Linked DNA regions of Homo sapiens: all the other regions are reported to be linked to region 3. The links are microRNA targets in miRTarBase. Many come from high-throughput screens and were not tested one by one. Region 3 holds a microRNA gene; each other region holds the end of a gene's coding sequence.

Evidence for each region. The annotated mature microRNA hsa-miR-3118 reads UGUGACUGCAUUAUGAAAAUUCU and lies in region 3 at 2,883-2,905, shown strand. An mRNA with a match to its seed (bases 2 to 7 or 8) in the 3' UTR can be bound and repressed. Matches are read on the target gene's strand: a 7mer-m8 pairs with bases 2 to 8, a 7mer-A1 pairs with bases 2 to 7 and ends in A, and an 8mer does both.
Region 1: the mRNA of TMEM101 is a reported target of hsa-miR-3118. Seed matches in the 3' UTR shown: 7mer-A1 at 3,150-3,156.
Region 2: miRTarBase lists IL6ST as a target of hsa-miR-3118. Seed matches in the 3' UTR shown: 7mer-A1 at 2,544-2,550.

What each region holds. Positions count from the first base shown.
Region 1 is chr17:44,008,272-44,012,511 of GRCh38, forward strand. It overlaps TMEM101 (transmembrane protein 101), which reads right to left. Exons shown (of 4, transcript NM_032376.4): 4 at 2,917-3,965. The coding sequence ends at 3,657. NAGS (N-acetylglutamate synthase) reads left to right here. Exons shown (of 7, transcript NM_153006.3): 7 at 177-797. The coding sequence ends at 330. Among named protein-coding and RNA genes, the nearest start is that of TMEM101, 4.6 kb to the right of the region's middle. RefSeq lists a silencer at 2,990-3,284.
Region 2 is chr5:55,937,432-55,941,645 of GRCh38, reverse strand. It overlaps IL6ST (interleukin 6 cytokine family signal transducer), which reads left to right. Exons shown (of 17, transcript NM_002184.4): 17 at 1-4,214. The coding sequence ends at 564. Among named protein-coding and RNA genes, the nearest start is that of IL6ST, 55 kb to the left of the region's middle.
Region 3 is chr15:20,829,956-20,834,195 of GRCh38, forward strand. MIR3118-2 (microRNA 3118-2) reads left to right here and starts at 2,840; the gene lies at 2,840-2,914.

The sequences.
Region 1 (4,240 bases), not on the chromosome of region 3:
ATGCCAGGCTCAGGCCTCTGCTGTGAGGATAAAATGAGATAACACACAGCAGGACCAAGCTGGGTGCCCAGCATGCAGTAGGTCCTCAATCAATGTTTTTTAAAGACAGAACCAGTGAGTAATGAACACTGGCCTTGCCCTAAAAACTGTTTCCTACATCACCTCCCCACACCCAGGTACTTCAAACACAGTGATGGCAGCTTCTCCAACAAGCAGTGGATCTTCTTCTGGTTTGGCCTGGCTGATATCCGGGACTCCTATGAGTTGGTCAACCACGCCAAGGGACTGCCAGACTCCTTTCACAAGCCAGCTTCTGACCCAGGCAGCTGACCCTCACCATGGACACTACAGGCCCTGGAATGGCCAGGGTGGACCAAAAGCCATGCCAGCTGGGCATGACCCCAGGCAGCCAGCCACAGGCTGAAGGGGGCTTGTTGGCTGAGTGATCTGCAGAGGAGAAAGCAGCCCCAGCTCTGCCCAGAGGAGGCGCTGAAGTGGGACAAGCACAGGAAAGAAGGGGACCAGTCTAGGACCCCAACTCGACTCACTCTAAAGCTACAACCAAATGGCCTTCGATTTTCAACCTGGGGATTAGGGGAGGGGAGGGTGCCTTCCAGGGCTCTACTCAGGACTAACCCTAAGGGTGAGCTAGTTTCTGTGCCTCTGTGCTATGTTTTGAGGCTCCCTTACCCAAAATAATACCCCTGCCTGCGTGATATTCTACCATTCATTTTAATTCCTTTGGGTCTTGCAGTTTTTCAGGAGGCCTTGATTAAAATGCAAATACTTGTCTGAGAGTCAGCTTACACTTGAAAGAAAATTAGAAGTGACCCCGTGGGAGCAAGATTTTTTTTTTTTTTTTAAAGACAGGATCTTGCTCTGTTACCAAGGCTAGAGTACAGTGGTGCAATCACAGCTCACTGCAGCCTTGACCTCCCAGGCTCAAGCAATCCTCCCATGTCAGCCTCCTAAATAAGCTGGTACCACAGGCATGCACCGCCACACCTGGATCTTTTTTTTTTGGTAGAGACGAGGTCTCACTATGTTGCCAAGGCTGCTCTCAAACTCCTGGGCTCAAGCAATCCTCCCTGCTTGGCCTCCCAAAATGCTAGGATTACAGGCTGGGAGCAAGATCTTGAGGGCTGGGGAATCAGGGGACTCCTGGAGGGAGTAGAAGACTTCTATGATGAATGCTGCCACCATCTCCCTCCCAGAGATTAGGAAGCATCCTCCCTTCCACAGACCAGGCCACAGCAGCCCCAGCTCCCCTTGCCTGTGAGTGCCTCCACCCACAGCTCCCTTTCTAGGCTGGGCTCACAGCCAGACCCAGGCATCAGTGGCGGACCGTTTACCTGCAAGAGCCCAGAGAAGTTAAAAGATGGCTTTGGCTTAAAAGCTCAAACTTGGACGTTTTCCCCTAGGCCCTACTAGTGGTTGTGTCCAGTCTCTACAGGACTCGATGGGCAGAAATCCAAAGCCCAGGGGTTTCATTTGACATTTTTTGAAGCTCCATAATGTAGCAGGCACCATACCGGCTGCTGCTGGGGTGACTTTCTGGCAGACACATAGACAAGAAGGGAGAAGGTCGCCGGATGCGATGACTCACGCCTGTAATCCCAGCACTTTAGGAGGCCGAGGCGGGTGGATCACGAGGTGAGGAGATCGAGACCATCTTGGCTAACACAGTGAAACCCCATCTCTACTAAAAATACAAAAAATTAGCTGGGCGTGGTGGCGGGCGCCTGTAGTCCCAGCTACTCAGGAGGCTGAGGCAGGAGAATGGCGTGAACCTGGGAGGCGGAGCTTGCAGTGAGCCAAGACCGCACCACTGCACTCCAGCCTGGGCGACAGAGCGAGACTCCGTCTCAAAAAAAAAAAAAATTAGCCAGGCATGGTGGCGGGCACCTGTAATCCCAGCTACTCAGGAGGCTGAGGCAGGAGAATCACTTGAACCCGGGAGGCAGAGGTTGCAGTGAGCCGAGATCACACCACAGCACTCCAGCCTGGGTGACAGTGAGACTCTGTCTCAAAAAAAACAAAAAACAAACAAACAAACAAAACCGTAGTCCCAGCTACTCGGGAGGCTGAGGCAGGAGAATGGCATGAACCCGGGAAGCGGAGCTTGCAGTGAGCAGAGATCACGCCACAGCACTCCAGCCTAGGTGACAGAGCAAGACTCCGTCTCAAAAAAAAAGGGAGAAGGTCAACAGGGAGACCATCATGGCACAGTAGGGGCTGGAATAGAGCAGCCTCTGTCTCCCCTCAGGAGATGGGTCACAGTGAGTACATATCTGGACTTCACCATTAGACAGACCTGACCTGGAATCCAGCTCTGTGGGCTGGATTTGCTCTGTGGCTTGACCGAAACTGCTTATCCTCTCTGAGCCTCCATTTCCTTCATGTATAAAGTGTAAAATATTCCACTTCACAGTGGACACTTCACAGTTCTCTCCCTCTAGCTGCTCTCACCAAAGATGTCTTCATAAGAACCAGCTCCAAATGGGGAGAAAAAGACAACCTACAACAAGAGGGACTGAGGTGAGGGATTGAAAGCATATAGTACAATGAGGATTTTGAGATTCTTGAAAAAGAGAGCCACTGGGCACAGTGGCTTATGCCTGTAGTCCCAGCACTTTGGGAGGCTGAGGCTGAGGCTGGAGAATCACTTGAGCCAAGGAGTCTGAAACCAGCCTGGACAACAAAGTGAGACCTTGTCTCTAAAAAATAAAGAAGTGAAAAATTAAAAAAAAAAAGAAAGAGAGAGAGCCAAAGAACTGTGGGAAATCTTGGAACAGGGGAAAGATCACGGGAGGCCCAAGGTGGGGCTTGACCAGATCTAGTGTTTCAAGAAACCCAAGATCAATCCCAGCCAATGGCAGAGTTCCCTGTTGGGGAGAACAGAAAAGCAAAACCAAATGTCTATATAAAATGTTTATTTTTGGAGGACTGTGTGGTCTGGTGTTTGGGAGGGAACTCCACCCCCACCAGGCCAACCATGGAGCTAGAAACAGAGACAGCAGGAAGGGCAAAGCTGGCCACTGCCTGCTCCACCCCTTCACAGCCCAGAGCAGAACAGGGTCTGCTCTACTCTCAAGGTGAGTGACAGAGAGCCGGTACTGTTTCTGCCCCTGGCATACCCTGAGAACCCATGTGACTTCTGTAGTGCTCAGCCCCTGTGCCCTTCCTGGGCCTGATCCACATGTGTCAACACACGCACTCCCTCTCACAGTCTCCAAACAGCACTGCAGAGCCTAGCTGCATCTGCCAGGTTCAAAGAGGAATTTTTCACATTTGCTCACTTCCAATCTCCATCTTCCTTCCTCTGTCTCCCACTCTCCCACTCTCAGTAGCCGCATCCCAGCCCTGCCATACTCCCTTCTCAGGGACAGGAGACTCAGTGGGCAGCTGGCCTCAGCTCTCCTAACAGGAAAAAAACCTGTACAGCATTAGTGCCAGGGCTCCTGCCCTCCCAAGCGCTGAGCCCAGAAATTTGGACAAATGAGCTGCCTCTTAACTGCAAAAAACAATTTTAAAAAAGCAAAAGATCAAACAAACAGACCAAAAAGCATAAATAAACAGCAGCTGGGCCAGCAAGGAGGAAGGCAGGGTGACCCTCAGTGGCTCCCTGTGCCCATCTCAGCCTCTTGCCATAAAACTCAGCCATCAGTGGCCAGGATGACAGCAGTTCCGAAGATGCCCACACTCTCTCCAAGGAGCTTCATCTGGTTCCAGAACTCAACACGCCGCGTGTTGTGCCAGTAAGCAACATTGCCATCAATGAGCAGCATGACAGGGGGCAGCAGTACAGCCAGGATCTGGGCAGCGAGGGTCACGTAGTAGCCTGACAGAAAGGCCAGGGCCAGGATGCCATACAGCACGAAGAACAGCTGGATCATCAGCTCCCCTCCTGGGAGATGGTTCAGATACGCCAGCCGGTCCTCCTTGCTGTGCTGCAGTGAGTAGGCCTGGAGACATAACATCCTCTAAGACTCTCCAACAGGCTCAGAAGCCTGTCTGGGGTAAACCACCCCTGAGATGGCACCTGCAAATGAGTCCCTGCAGATGGGCTTCTGACTCCCCTCTTGGACTGGGGAACCTCTGAAAGTAGGGCCTTTGTCTCCCCCTCGGACTATGGAGCCCCAGGAGATTAGGGCCCATGTCTCCCCTCACCCTAGGGGCTATGAAGGAAGTGTATTTCCACAGTCAGACTAGAGCTCCCACCTCTGAATATGGGAGCCCA
Region 2 (4,214 bases), not on the chromosome of region 3:
TCATGCATGTCATCTTCTAGGCCAAGCATTTCTAGCAGTGATGAAAATGAATCTTCACAAAACACTTCGAGCACTGTCCAGTATTCTACCGTGGTACACAGTGGCTACAGACACCAAGTTCCGTCAGTCCAAGTCTTCTCAAGATCCGAGTCTACCCAGCCCTTGTTAGATTCAGAGGAGCGGCCAGAAGATCTACAATTAGTAGATCATGTAGATGGCGGTGATGGTATTTTGCCCAGGCAACAGTACTTCAAACAGAACTGCAGTCAGCATGAATCCAGTCCAGATATTTCACATTTTGAAAGGTCAAAGCAAGTTTCATCAGTCAATGAGGAAGATTTTGTTAGACTTAAACAGCAGATTTCAGATCATATTTCACAATCCTGTGGATCTGGGCAAATGAAAATGTTTCAGGAAGTTTCTGCAGCAGATGCTTTTGGTCCAGGTACTGAGGGACAAGTAGAAAGATTTGAAACAGTTGGCATGGAGGCTGCGACTGATGAAGGCATGCCTAAAAGTTACTTACCACAGACTGTACGGCAAGGCGGCTACATGCCTCAGTGAAGGACTAGTAGTTCCTGCTACAACTTCAGCAGTACCTATAAAGTAAAGCTAAAATGATTTTATCTGTGAATTCAGATTTTAAAAAGTCTTCACTCTCTGAAGATGATCATTTGCCCTTAAGGACAAAAATGAACTGAAGTTTCACATGAGCTATTTCCATTCCAGAATATCTGGGATTCTACTTTAAGCACTACATAAACTGACTTTATCCTCAGACTAGCTGAATGATTTTGTGCTGTTTCAGGATGTTTGCACTGAAGAAAAACAGAAAGCTTATCTGAAATTTATAAAACTTTTTGTTTTGCTACATAGAAAACAGAAGGTATTTGAATAATAAGCAGTGATATGCTTAGTGAGCACAGCTATACTGATTTTGATTAGAATAGTCATCAGAGTGGCTTAGGGACAGTTAATATAAAAGAGGAGCAAGGTGTAGACCATCATCTACTTCTGCTAAAATAACTTAAAAAGAGGTCCATAGGCCATAACTACATGAGCCCAGCTTTTGTAATCTGACAAAAAAATGAGGAGCAGCTTCGTGTATATCAGTGTACACGGTATTCCTTAGGTCCCTTCCATTGGTAGTGATGCTGCGAGTTATTACTGGAGAAAAGGAATTCTAGAGCTTTAACTTGGCAGATTAAAAGTACTCATTTTTTATTCATCAATAATTAGTAATCTCACTAGTTTTCAAAAATTTGCATATTATTGACAACCTCTTTGAAGATGCATTTCACAAACTCAACAGAGTGCCATGATAAGAGCTAGGGATCCCCCAAACTATCTCAAGCATCTAAAAAATTGCCATTTTTAAAGGCTTAAATTGTAGTAGTAAAGGGGAAAACAGGAAGTAGTAGTAAAGGGGAAAAAAAACCAATAAAGCATCTAAAAAATTGGCATGTTAAAAGGCTTAAATTGCTAATGTGTGTATATATATATATATATATACACACACATATCATTGACTTTTCTTAAGACTTCAGAGTACTGGGTAGATGAACACTTTATACAGTATATATCTTCAGCTTAAATTTGTTTTGAGTATTTTTTTTATTTTTAAATAAGTAGGCAAAGATTTAAATTTTTTTATTTTTAGTAAATGTTTGAGGCACACTAAGACAACTTGGGCAATATTTGCCAAAACAAAACAGAACCCCAAAAAATGTACATCTTGTTCTTAGCAAATATCATTATTGTAGAGACACTTAATAAAGAGATGGTATTTTAATGTCTGCAGTTCTGAGGTAGGGTGGAACTTAGTTCTACATTGTGATTTAGGAATTTTTAAAACCTTTTTTCTTCAAGGGAGAAGTGACCCAGGCCTCGAGTTTAGTGCTAAAGCCGCTAGTGTACTTATGCTGTCCCCTAACCACCACGTGCGATATGGAAGCAGATGCTAAATATAGGGGTTTTCTTAGAAAGTAAGAGGAAATTAGCAAGCGTTATTAGTGATTGACTACTGCTATCAAGTGAATTCAAAGGAAACAGGTTTTTATGCCATATTTAAGTTACAGAAACCAGGCATGCTTAGAATAGTTTCTAGAGGTTATTGGAGAATAGAAAGCTAAGAAAACTTGGTATACATTTACAATGGAAATATAATTACACTTTTTACTCTCAGAATATTGTTCACATTAGACTTCCTGTTTATCTTTTATATTCTTGCATTTATATAATGCCTCATCCTTTCAAAGTTCTTTCACATATTATATGATCTTCTTTATGAAAAAAATAGATGTTTCATTCTGATATATTCAGTTTCCCACTTTAGGCAAAAGTAGATTAATAGAATGACGAATTCAAAGTAGATGAGGAAAATCAGGCACAGAGAAGTAAAGGTAGGGATAGACCCAAATTTACACAACAAGATAATGACATCTCCAGCTTTTAAGTTGATCATCAAAGGCTGGGCTGGATTTGTCTTGCTGTATGTGTCAGGAAATTTATACCTATTACATTTTCCATTTTCTCAAAATTTAAGTCACATGACTAATATTTAGCTGCAACTTTCCTCATAACAAATAGTGTCATGAAGAATGTTGTAGTGTGAAGTTTGTACATTTCAGGGTCAGATATACAATATGAACTCTTAATCTACAGGAATGAGAATGGAGGATCATTGAAGGCCATGATATAAACAAATTTGCATGTTGAAGCCTGTATAAAACATGGTACAGTGAGTGAATATACCCCCATCCCCAAGAACACTTTATACATATTAAATGGATATATGATTACTGTGCAAAAATTCATTCTGGAAATGAACATATATTTGAGCACTAATATGTAATGTACACCTGCCCTAAGGAGAAAATAAATTATAAAACTTTTTACATTCAAAATTACTTTCCCAAGCATGTCTTAGAATAATCTATGTGTTGATGCATGTAAATTGTACTTTAGGTAGGCAAAGAAATCTGGTTATTTATGTAAAAACTAGTCTAATAAAGTTAGTTAGTGGCTTTATCACTTTAAATCTTTAGTGTCCAAAAGTGGTGTTTAAAGTAATAGCACATCAGAAAACCTTGTCTGGACAAAACTAGTTCACTCACTGCTTCTGCACCTGCAGTTGCTCCCTTTAGGGTTATAAAATAATGACCCAAATGTTACATGTGTTGATATTATAACTTGTCAGTTACTGATGTCTGTGGTATCCTACCCTCATCTCTGAAAGGGATAATACTGAATAATTATTAGAAAACTATAAAACTTCACACTTTGTACCATTAAAACCTAAAATTTTAATCTTGTCCTTTTTTACTATGGATCAGTCGGCACTCGGGAACAGCAGCAAGGAAAAAAAGCAAATTTCATTCACATGTTCTGTGTTCATACCTCTTCTCTACCTAATTGTTCATTTAAATTTCAGCCTTATTCCTTGATAAGGGATTTTACCACATGAAGTCATCCAGTGACCCTAGCTCTTATTGTGAAGTTAGTGGAGTATACTTAGAAATGTTACAACTTTAAAATGTTACAAAACATTCATTAAAGCTCATATTTAAAGTAGAGCATCTAGTTTGAGAAATAGAAATCAATTATTAAAGATGTCTTTTTTCTACCCATTTAACTAGTTAAAACCATGACATGTAAATGTAGAAGTAGAATAATCATAGAATTCCCTAAAATATTTCTGTTTACTAACATATATTGACCAAGTACATCAAGCAGGAGAGATCTTCCTTCATTCTGTTATAGTCCACATCATTCTAATTTTGCTCAGTTGTTATTAAGAGCATATTCCTAAACCATACACTTTTGTTTCAATAAAGTTTTATTTTGTTGAGATGAATAAAATAACAAAGTTATAAGCTGCATAAGACAAAAGTTCAATTGTTCAAAAAAAATTTACTGGGATAGCTTTCTATTACAGGTATTGTTAGATTATATTGTGCTGATAAGATTACTTTCTAAAAAATTTGTACTTTTCTGTAAATTAAAAGAATATGGAGTCATAAAATGGCAAGTGTTTTAGGATTAGCCTAAAATTGGACATTGTCATTGATTTCAAAGAAGGTATGAACTAGCAGTCTTACAGCCTAATTCTTCTTTGGACTGGTCCTTGGCAGCAGTTCCTTTTCAGACTCGATAAACAGAATTCAGATGATGTAAGTCAAAACAAAACTTTACAAAGCCAAGCGTATTATCTT
Region 3 (4,240 bases):
TCACAACAGGAAAGACTTGGAACCAACCCAAATGCCCACCAATGATAGACTGGATAAAGAAAATGTGGCATATATACACCATGGAATACTATGCAGTCATAAAAAAGGATGAGTTCATATCCTTTGCAGGGACATGGATGAAGCTGGAAACTGTCATTCTCAGCAAACTAACACAAGAACAGAAAACCAAACACCACATGATCTCACTCATAAGTAGGACCTGAACAATGAGAACACATGGACACAGGAAGGGAAACATCACACACAAGGGCCTGTCAGGGTGGGGGGCTAGAAAAGGGATGGCATTAGATCATGGGTTGGTGCATGCAGCAAGCCACCATAGCATGTGTATACGTATGTAACAAACCTGCATGTTCTGCACATGTACCCCAGAACTTAAAGTATAATTAAAAAAAAATAAATTTGCTTTTAATTAAGCTTTTCAACATAGAACTTGTAAAGAAAATACTTCTGAATCTTTTACTACCACATCATAGCTGGGACAAACTGCTGATATTTTAAAAGTAACACAAATATCAAACAGAAAGAACTAGACTTAGGAACCAAACTCAGGTTTCTGTAGTGAACAGGGCAGAATCTTAACTTTGGGTCGCCACCACTACTCCCTCAGTTTGGCCTTGGCTAGCAAAAGATGCAACCACTTATGTAAAAAATAAAAATAAAAAAGTTAAAAAAATCATTTCTGCTAACTGGAATTTTTTTTTTTTTTGCAGCCACATGAGTTTTAGCCAATTCAGAAGCCTTGTTCCCCACAATTTGGAGCATTCTTTGGATTTGACCAAGTCAGGAAGAGATGGGAGAAAAGTGAAACAACAACAACAAAACCCCAAACATAAACAAACAAAAAGAGTTAAGCAAAACAAACAAATGCACAATTCATATGATTACTGAGTGTTCTAATGGTAACGAGAAATTAAAAGCAGCTGGTGAGTAATCTTAAATTTTAGTCATTAAGGAAAAATTTTAAGACAAAACTCTAATTCAGCTACTTACCTGGAAATAAGTCTCAGGCTGGTGATTGTTCTCTGCCATCTTAGAAGCTGGAAAAAACTTACACTCACCTTCCCTGTCAGAAGCAAGCTGAAACTCAAGAAAGGAGGTGCCTGCTCTCCATCATCACGGAAGCAGGAAAACTTGCCTTGTTGGAAATAAGTAAAACTTCAGAAAAGGAGTTGTATAGCAAAATCAACCTTAGATCTCAACCAAATTTTGGGAGATCAGGGATTCTCTGCAGGGGAGAAGCTCCCTAACCTCAGCACATTATCCTATTGGTTTGGGCAATAAAGATAGCCCAGGTTGGTATCAAGCAATAATGAGATTTATCAAAGGTCAGGACCACCTTTGTAATCTCCTTCTCTCTTTTTTTTTTTTTTTTTTTTTTTTTTTTTGAGACGGAGTCTCACTGTCTCGCCTGGGCTGCAGTGCAGTGGCACGATCTTGGCTCACTGCAAGCTCCACTTCCCAGGTTCACACCATTCTCCTGCCTCAGCCTCCCAAGTAGCTGGGACTACAGGCACCCGCCACCATGCCCAGCTAATTTTTTGTATTTTTCGTAGAGACGGGGTTTCACCGTGTTAGCCAGGATGGTCTCGATCTCCTGACCTTGTGATCCATCTGTCTCAGCCTCCGAAAGTGCTGGGATTACAGGCGTGAACCACCGCGCCCAGCCCTCTGTCTTTTTTTTTTTCTTTTTAATCTTTATTGGTATAGTCTGCTTTGTCAGAAACTAGGAGTGCAACACCTGCTTTTTTCTATTTTCCATTTCCTTGAAATATTTTTCTCCATTCCTTTATTTTGAGCCTATGTAGGGCACTGCATGTGAGATGGGTTTCTTGAAGATGGCATACTCCAATGGGTCTTGGTTCTTTATCCAGCTTGCCCCCTGTGTCTTTCAATTGGAGCATTTAGCCCATTTCCATTTAAGGTTAGTAATGGTATGTGTGGATTTGATCCTCTCGTCATGCTGTCAGCTGGCTTTTTTGCAGACTTATGTATGTGGTTGGTTTTTAGCATCACTTGTCTGTGTACTTCAGTGTGTTTTTGTAGTGGCTGGTGGTGGTCTTTTCTTTCCATATTTAGTGCTTCCTTCAGGAGCTCTTGTAAGGTAGGTCTGGTGATAATGAATTCCCTCAGCATTTGCTTGTCTGAAAAGGATCTTGTTTCTCCTTCACTTATGATGCTTAATTTTGCTGGACATGAAATTCTGGGTTGAAATTTCTTTTCTTTAAGATGTTGAATATCTTTTCTGGCTTGTACAGTTTCAGTTGAGAGGTCTGCTAAGTCTGATGGAATTTCCTTTGCAGGTGATGTTGCCTTTCTCCCTAGCTGCCTTTAACACTTTTTCTTTCATTTTGACCGCAGAGAATCTGATGATTATGTGTCTTGGGGATGATCTTCTCATGGCATATCTTACTGAGGTTCTCTGGATTTCCTGAAGTTGAGTGTTGGCCTGTCTGGCTAGGTTGGGGACATTCTCATGAATGATATTCTGAAATGTGTTTTCCAAGTTGGTTCCATTCTCCTCATCTCTTTCAGGTACATTAATCAGTCATAGATTTAGTCGTTTATATAATCCCATATTTCTCGGATGTTTTGTTCATTCCCTTTCATTCTTTTTTCCCCCATTCTTGTTTGCCTGTTTTATTTCAGAAAGCCAGTTTCCAGGTTCTGGGATTCTTTCCTCTTCTTGGTCTATTCTGTTGGATGGTCTTGCACATGAGATGGAGCTGGTCTGACCTCAGCCCTCCCTAGTCTGCTTGCCTCTCCCAGGACCCCAGCCTGGCCACATCTGCTTACAGGGCACTCTCAGGTGCCCACACATACTACAATAATTTTCATAATGCAATCACACACAATCACCGTGTGACTGCATTATGAAAATTCTTCTAGTGTGATTTACAGCTCTGTCAGGTCAGTTATTTTCTTCTTTATACTTGCTATTTTGTCTGTTAGTTCCTGCAATGTTTTACAATGATTTTTAGCTTCCTTGTATTGGATTACAACATACCTCTTTCACTCAGGGAACTTTGTTCCTACCCATATCCTGAACTCTGCTTGTATCATTTCAGACATCTCAGCCTCAGCCCAGTTCTGAACACTTGCTGGAGAGTTGATGCAGTCATTTGGAGAAAAGAAAGCATGCTGAATTTTTGAGTTTTCAGTGTTCTTGCACAGTCTTTTTCTCATCTTTATGGGCTTATCCACCTTCAATCTTTGAGGCTGCTGACCTTTGGACAGGGTATTTTTCCTTTATTATATCTGATGACCTTGAGGATTTGATTGTGGTGTAAGGTGGATTCAGCCAACAGGTTTTGTCTTTGGAGGATTTTAAGGGGCCAACATGCAGCTCCCAATTCTTGGACTGTGTGCTTTAACTCTGGGGAACTTGTATTGGGCCACAACTTTGTTCTCTGGCTCCTCGAGGTTTGGAGTCCACCGCACTGAGGGGACCAAAGTGCGGCAGCTGTGGCAGAATGCTAGCAGATGCAAAAGTCCCTGCCTCCCTGTGGGCATTCACCTAGTGGTGGAGGCAAAACAGCTGGGGTGTGGGCCAGGGGGCCCCTGCTGACTGTGTGTGCTGTTGCACTGGAGGTAGTTCTGGTTTGGGGTGGGTGGCTGGCCAGTGAAGGTGCCTTCTCTGATCCCCCCCAAGCAACAGTGGTCACTCAGGGTATAAGAAGGTCCCTTTTCCTCTGCACAGCATTACCTCAAGGGTGAGATGCTAGCAGGGGTGGGGTTTTTGGTTCTGTGCCCACCATGGCTTCATCTTCAGTGGCAGTTGGTGTGGGTTGGGGTGTGTGCTGCATTCCCATATGCTGTTAGGGCAAGTACAACAAAACCCACCTGTGTAAACACACACAGCTAAGTGATGTAGAAAGTTTCCATATAAAGGGCTGCAGTATGGAGAGGTAATGTGCAGGCTGGTACGTGGCTGTAGAGGTCACCTTGCTGCAGCTCTCCACTGATCAGCCACGGTCCGCTTGTACAGAAGCTATGGTGTGGGCACCCAGAAGTGCCCTCTAAGCAGGTGTGGCCTGGCTGGGGTCCTGGGAGAGGCAAGCAGACTAAGGGGTGCTGAGGTCAGACCAGCCCCATCTCATGTGCAAGACTGCCCAGCAGAGATCAGGTCTCAGAGGAGAACTCTCTCAAAAGTGAATCCTCAGCACAGCACAACTGCTCTACACAAACGCGGCCAGACTTCTTTTTTAAGCAAGTCCCC